2 linked regions of the Homo sapiens genome follow. The protein of the gene in region 2 purifies or fractionates together with the protein of the main gene of each other region. This does not show direct contact. Each region holds a gene or a part of one and is shown on either strand. Other genes may lie near its edges.

What was found.
Region 1: the proteins of SDC2 (region 2) and CAMKV purify together in Homo sapiens (affinity purification with mass spectrometry; 4 studies listed by BioGRID and IntAct, with this or other methods). This does not show direct contact.

The regions. Positions count from the first base shown.
Region 1 is NC_000003.12:49,863,191-49,866,933, reverse strand, and holds part of CAMKV (caM kinase-like vesicle-associated protein), read left to right. Parts: intron 1-3,273; exon of another isoform or gene 3,274-3,559; intron 3,560-3,743. UniProt on the Homo sapiens protein: Does not appear to have detectable kinase activity.
Region 2 is NC_000008.11:96,591,274-96,595,016, forward strand, and holds part of SDC2 (syndecan-2 precursor), read left to right. Parts: intron 1-2,206; coding exon 2,207-2,318; intron 2,319-3,743. UniProt on the Homo sapiens protein: Cell surface proteoglycan which regulates dendritic arbor morphogenesis.

The sequences.
Region 1 (3,743 bases), on a different chromosome or scaffold from region 2:
CAAGGTAGCAGGAAACTCTGTTTATGTCTATGAAAGGTAGGGCCTGAACCAGGATGATCTCAGCGGAGGAGGGGACAGGACCCCAATGTGGGGCCTCCGGACCTCTTGGCCTTTGTCCCGTTTGGGCTTTCCCTGGGCCAGACTTACCTAAAGATGCAGCAGAGTCCCTGGGGGACCATTTATCACCAGGGCACCAACAGAGGACCCCTCAGGATTGCTGGAGGCTCAATTCCCTGAGTCCAGTGGTCAGGCCCTGGGAGCAGGCCATAACTGGGGAGTGCTTGGCTCTCAGGCTCCATGAGAGCCAGCTGGAGGGCAATGGCCGCACCAGGGCCTGCACTCCCCACAAGCTCCCTCTGGGCAGCCGGTAGTGCATACTGTTCAGTTCCTCTGCAGAGAGTGGAGGGAGCCATGTCTCCAGGGAAATGGCTGTTGTGGAGCTCCCATGCCCTTCCATGGCCTAAGTGTACCTGAGGAAGAGCTCAGATCCTGTGTTGCTGAGAGGAGAGCTCTCCATTGTTGGGTGTTGGGTCTGGGCCATGGGGGTGAAAAATACAAACCCCTTCCACTTGGCCTCCTCTCTTTCTGAGAGCTGTCCCTTGGCTGTTCCTCCCAGGTCTCCTTTGTTGCAAGCAGGTGCCCAGGGCTTGGTGCACACACCCGAAACCTCCCAGGGAGCAACAGTGGATAGCAGATGGTGGAGTGGGTGTGGGCAGAGGGAACCAAGGTGCTAATTGAAAGCCAGGCCCCTCTTTCTCCTCTCTTTGCCCTGGGGCCAAGTCCAGGGCCCCAAGCCAGTATACTTAGACTGGTGAGGAGGAGGAGGAGGAGGAGTGACTGGCTGAAATTTGGGCAGCCATAGTAGGGGGCAGGGGAGACAGATCTGTTCCCATCTCAGCCTTGAGGCTTCAGGACATGGCTCCAGGCTGACATTACGGGGTGGAGGCCCAGTTTTCTGTGCCTTTCATGGGACAGACCCCCATGACCAGCCCTGGACCTCAGTGGGCACGAATGCATATGCAGAGCCGAAAGCTGGGGCCAGGATCAAGGACAGGCATGCACAAAACCTCCCACCCACGCCACACTGGCAAAGCTGGGAGCTGTTGGAGTGGGGTGGGGGGTGGGGCATGGAGGTTGTGGAAGGTATCTCAGAAAAGGGCCATTTTGAGTCTGGCCTTCGAGCATCAGGATTGTTTTGGACAATGTGTTGCACAAACCACCTTATAATGTCAGAAATCACAATGAAAGAAGAGATTCAGTTCTGCTCTCAGCACCTCGCTCATGTGGCAGCTGCTCCACAGGAAAGCCAAGGTGGGCAGAGCTCTTGCCAGTGCCCACACTTCCTACCATTGAGTGGACACAGTTGAGCTGGCGAGTCACCTGTTGTTGGACATTTAGGTAGTTGCTGAATTTTTTTTAATGTTATAAATAACTCTGCCGTGACAAATAGGAATCTGACGGGAGGCTTTTGGGGGAAGGGCACTCTTGCCAGAGGGAATGGTGTAAGCAAAGCAACAGAGCCAGGGCACAGGTCCCTCCCAGCCTTCTTGGGAGACTGCAGGCTAAGGTACCATCCTCCTGCCCAGTACACGGCCCTCAGACTGAGATGACTGTTGCAGGCCCCCTCCTGCAGCTGTTATGGTGTGAAAATGTGTAGCCGGCAATGGTAACTGGCTATGCCTCTGCTCTCAGCTGTGAGGATGGGATTCTGGCCACATGCTTCTCCCCAGTGGAGGAGTGCAGGGTTGTGCCCATGGTGGCAGACATGCAGTCAGTGACGATCTTCAAAGCCTCTCCTTTGTCTCTGCTGTGCCTCGCAAGATGGCTTAAACCCTGTCTGGAATAATGCTGATGAAATGCATTTGTATTCCCTGAGCCCAAGCAACCCAGATGAAGGAATGATAGAGTTTGTTCCCTAATGCTGAAGGCAAATCTGAGGGAGAATTTCCAGGGCTGTGACTCCTGGGAATCACAGCCTGGTGGCTGGCTTCTGCCTGGGAGGAAGCAAGTAGCAGCCAGGGTTGGCTATGGGGCTCGTTTGGGTCCTGGTCTTTGACTTTGGCTGGCAGAGTTCATCTTGCCAAGCTGCCTCCTTTGCCTCCTCCCTTCTCCACTACCTTGAGGCTGTGAGTGCCTTCAGGTCGGGGAGCATCTAGGTACCCCCAGGCCCTAGCTCAGGCCCTGCACACAGCAAGTGCTAATTGGCATGGAGGGAAAACATGCACAGTCAGCAGAGGCAGAGCAATTTCAGCGCAGCCTCAGTGCAGAGCTTGCTGTAGCCCCAGTGTCACACTGACCGGGTATTATGGAGGCACACCCTGGCGTCAGATCTGTGAAGGTCTAGTCAGTAACCCCCCACCCCCAGCTTTGAGCATGGGCTATGAGTGCCTTTTCCTTTGGACACTGGAGTCAGCCCCCCTAGCACTACAGATGAGGATTGGGCTGTAATTGGCAGGATTGCAGACCTGTGGGACACCGTGCCCCAGGTGGAAAGAGTGCCTAGCGCTCACTGAGCCAGCTATATCTGTTCTGTTTGGGGGCCTTGCACCTGGACCTGACAGCCCAGGTCCCCTGTGGGCCCCAGTGGGCATGAATGCATATGCAGAGCCGAAAGCTGGGACCAGGATCAGGCTTGTTTTGCTCTTCCTGACCAGTACACCTGCATACCTCCTGGCAAATCTTTTCCTACTGAGTCCTAATGCTGCCTCCAAAGCTTTACCTTGCCTCTCCACCCAGATTATCCCTCTGAGGAATCCCCCAAGCACTGTGCCTGAGTGCAGTATTTACTAAATTCATCGAAGTCATTATAGTAAAATAGTAAAAATTCGCACAGAAAATTAGTAAACAAAAGATATGTCTGCCTTTTTGACATCCAATTCTTTGCCCAGGAGAGAACTCTTATTTCCTTCAGTATTCTTCCAGAAAAGAGTTTGTGAGGGTACATCAGTATGTAAACTTTAAAAAATTTACCCAAGCCAGGTATGGTGGCTCATGCCTGTAATCCCAGCACTTTGGGAAGCTGAGGTGGGAGGATCACTTGAGCCCAGGAGTTCAAGAACAGCCTGGGCAACGTAATGAAATCCTGTATCTACAAAAAAATTTTTAAAAATTAGCCAGTTGTGGTGGTGTGCACCTATGGTCCAGTCCTAGCTACTCAGGAGGCTGAGGTGGGAGGATCGCTTGAGCCCAGGAGGTTGAGGCTGGAATGAGCTGTGATCATTCCACTGCATTCCAGCCTGGGTGCCACTGCATTCCAGCCTGGGTGACAGAACAGCTGGGCATGGTGCGGGTGCCTGTAATCCCAGCTGCGGTGGGAGGATCGTTTGAGTTCAGGAGCTCTGGGCTGCAGTGCGCTATGCCAGTTGGGTGTCTACACTAAGTTTGGCATTAGTATGGTGACTTCCTGGGAGCTAGAGCTCATCAGGTTGCCTAAAGGAGGGGTGAAGCAACCAAGGTCAGAGACGAAGCAGGTCAAAACTCCTGTGCTGATCAGTAGTGGGCTTGTGCCCATGAATAGCCACTGCACTCCAGCCTGGGCAACATAGTGAGACTTGTCTCTAAAAAAAGAAAGAAAGAAAGAAAAGAAAAGAAAAGAAATAGGTCTTCCAGAATCCCCCCATGTGTCCTGAATCAATCATAACCCCTCCTTTTCTCTTAGAAGGGACCATTATCTGACTCTGCTTATTTCCTAGCTTTTCTTTATAGCTCTACTGCTGTGTTTGTATCCCCCTTACGGGTTTGTT
Region 2 (3,743 bases):
GGGAATATTTTGCTTACTTTTAAGACTGTAGGTTACTTAAATAGATGCAATGCAAGCTATAGGAGGTTTGGGGCAGATGGTCTCCTAGGCTTAAAATGGAGAGATTTTAAACTACGAGGATCCTGGAGGTCTTGTGACATGTAACTCTGAAACCTCAGTCCAAGGCCAATTTGGTTTAAGTAATCTCAGTCAAATATTTATTTTGTGGCCATGCATTTTGAGAGGGACAGAGAACACAGGTCATTCAAAACATGCCTTCAATGAGTTGTACTCTGCTGAGGGGCAAGAAAAATGCACATGAAACAATGAAAAGTAACAGTGAGGGTTTATGTCTTAAACTGTTCATATGCTACAAAATCCTAAAATAGTACTTTATAATTAGGAGGTGTATAAGGAGTGGAGAAGTCACAGCCTGTTTCATAGTAGCCAGGATTTGAGAGAAGAAACCAGGAGGTCCTCCAGGGGAAGTAAATGGGACAAAGTTTAAGACAAGCAGGACGGAGAATGGCTTTTTCATGGGAGCACGAATGGTGGTTCAACCCAAGCGGTGTTTACTGAGCATCTACTATATGCCAGGCACTGTGACTGGGGGAGGGAAGCCTTGCCTTTAAAGGAGCTGAGAGCCTAAGAGGAGGCAGTTGATGATAGAGCTGTAGAACACAGGGCTCCTGACACAGTTCACAAGCTTTGGGAATTACAATCTGGAATGGTGATAGCCTTGGAAACCAGTGAAACAGGGTGGCGTCAGATTGCAGAGTTAAGCTCTGACCATTCTACTAGAAAAGTTGCAGCACACTCTTGGCTCAGGGTGGTCCAGGCCACTGGAACACCAGTCCCTAAGGTTTCAGTTCTCAGAATCCACCAGTGTGATAGCTCAAACAAAATAGATTCCCATGCTTTGCTTTCAGTTGGCACTGAGGCCTGGTGGAGAATGTGGGCTCAGGTTTAAAGTGCTTTAGCCTTGCTAGCCAGCTGCTGAAACCTGAGAAAATAAAGTGGTACTGTTACAGAGGGTTGGACCTGTCCTCTTAGGAAGGTTCCAATCACAGCGACTGCTGGAAGAGAAAATTTTATTTTAAGATTAAATCTAATGAAAGCCAGTGTAGTAAGGGAAACATTATTTTATAATTTCTGTTAAGAGCAAACATTCTATATGATTTTTAAAAATAGAGCAATAATGAGTGTTGCCTGTTTCCAAACAAGCGTTGTTTAAAAGCTGCCTGTCTGCTTTATTATTTTTTTCCTGGGCTTTTGCGAGATAATGGTAGTAAAATATCAATTTACTAAAACCATTTTTTAAAGTCTTATACCTCTACTCTGTCTCCAGTTCATGCAAGTTCTTCTTTTGGCAGGATTAGGTTGAATTTTAATACTAAACTCTTACTGAAGAGTTAAGAAGCTGTGGAACTGGTATACTTAGTGACTGATCCCTCTCCATATTAAGCGTGTGATTTGCTATTACCAGTTGCCAGTAATAGAAAAAGAATGTGCTCGTGTGGGTTTATCTGTATTTGTCATTAAGGCTTTGCTAAGCCAATGAGCCCTAGAAGCAGGCGTGCAGTGGGCTTTCTCCCTGTCAGGTGAGCCTCACGGGCGCTGCTCCTCTCCGGGCACTGTGGCTGGCCTCAGCACAGGTCTGGGCTGGGGTAGAAAGGCCTGCATGGCCTGAGGACCCAGGTGACTGGGGATCTCTCATCTGTAGCGGTAAAGTTCTGAGTATTGCCAGGCCTGCAAGCACTGGTAGGATTTGATGGATCCCTGGGTGATTATTTAGCCTAAGCTAAGCCGTAATACCTTTGCATACATCCCCAAGAAAGTCCTAAGTGTTTTGTTCCCTTTCCAGTAAGGGAGTGACAAAGAGAATGCCCAAGATGGCTTATAACTAGCATTGGGATGGCTGAAAGTCAGGTAAGTTTAGTGGAATGCAACAAAATAAGCCCAAGATAGGAGTTTAGATCTCCGAAATGTTTTCATTCTACTGGTTTAAGCTGTGTAGGCTTCCCTTGCAGGTTATTAGTCCGTGCTCACCTCTCAAATTGCTGTTAAGTTGTCAGGGTGCCTGAGGAAGACTGTGGCCAGAGATGTGGATTCAGACTACTGTGGGAGTGGGAGGGGTAGTCACTGCAGTATGTACCTGAACAATCAGATATACAAGTGTGTTTCTTAATCTCTCAACATCCTGACTCCCTTGTCTTTCCTTTCTCAGAGAGCAGAGCTGACATCTGATAAAGACATGTACCTTGACAACAGCTCCATTGAAGAAGCTTCAGGAGTGTATCCTATTGATGACGATGACTACGCTTCTGCGTCTGGCTCGGGTAAGGTGGCTGCTTCTAAACACTGGACCTCATTCTCCAGGCATGCACGCACACACATTTTACTGTGCTTACTTCAAGGAGACAGGCAGGATGCACAGTGGTTAAGGGCACCGTCTTTGGAATCAAAGGGCCTGGGTGCTAATTCTAGCTCTCTCTGCCACTTACGCTGTGAGATCTTGAGAATTTATTTGCTGAGCCTCAGTTTCCTCCTTTATAAAATGGAAAGTAACAATAGTCCTTACCATAGAGTTGTTGTGAGGATTAAAAGGGAGTTGACACATCTAAAGCTCTTAGATTTGGGGGCTTGGCACATAGTGCTCTGTCAACATTAGCTTTTAATCGTATTAAGACTTTCAGAGTGATGTCATGGAAACCACCCTTCAAGAAATCCCTCAAACACTGGTTTCATAAAACCACCTACCCTATGTTAAAAATTGTAGATGAGACCAAGAAGTTAATACGTTTTTATTCCTAGGGTATTGTAGGAGGAAAATGCAGCAGCCAAGTAAAATGATTATGTAGTGACATGATCAGATTCCTTAGTATATTATTCCTTAATAGTTATCTGTTACCACTCTAAGGCTACATAATAAACCACCCCAAAACTTGGTGGCTTAAAGTAACAGTCATTCATTTAACTTATTATTCTGTAGGTTGGTGATGTAGGCTGGGCTGGCTGGGCTCCCTCACATGTCAGTGGTCAGCTGCCGGTTGAGTGTACAGCTTTAGGTTGGGTTTGCAGCTTTCGGGTACTCATATCCCTGGGGCAGCTGAGCAGACTTGGGTTCTGTTCGTGTGGTCTCTCATTCTCCAGTAGGCAAGCTATTTTTTCACAGTAACAGCAAGTAGAAGTGTGCAAAGCCTCTTGCAGCCAGGCCTTAGAACTGGGCACAGCATCACTTTTACTACATTTTACTGGTTGAAGCAAGTCAGAAGGCCAGAACAGACTCCACCTCTTAGTGAAAGGATTCATAAAGTCACATTTACAGAGGATATGTATACACGGAGGATTAAGGGATTCTGGTCACATTTACAATCTACCATAATTGATGAATATTTCCCCTGTTCTCAGAATGGCCCCTGTATGAGTTCATTCTCACCCTGCTAACAACACAGGGACTGGGTAATTTATAAAAGAAAAGAGGTTTAGTTGACTCACAGTTCAGCATGCCTGGGGAGGTCTCAGGAAACTTACAGTCATGGCAGAAGGGGAAACAAACATGTACTTCTTCACATGGTGGCAGCAGGGAGAAGTATGAGTGAAGAGGGGATAAGCCCCTTATGAAACCATCAGATCTCATGAGAACTCACTGTCATGAGAACAGCATGAGGGTAACTACTCCCATGAGTCAGTGATCTCCCACCAGCTCCCTCCCATGACATGTGGGGATTATGGGAACTACAATTTAAGATGAGATTTGGGTG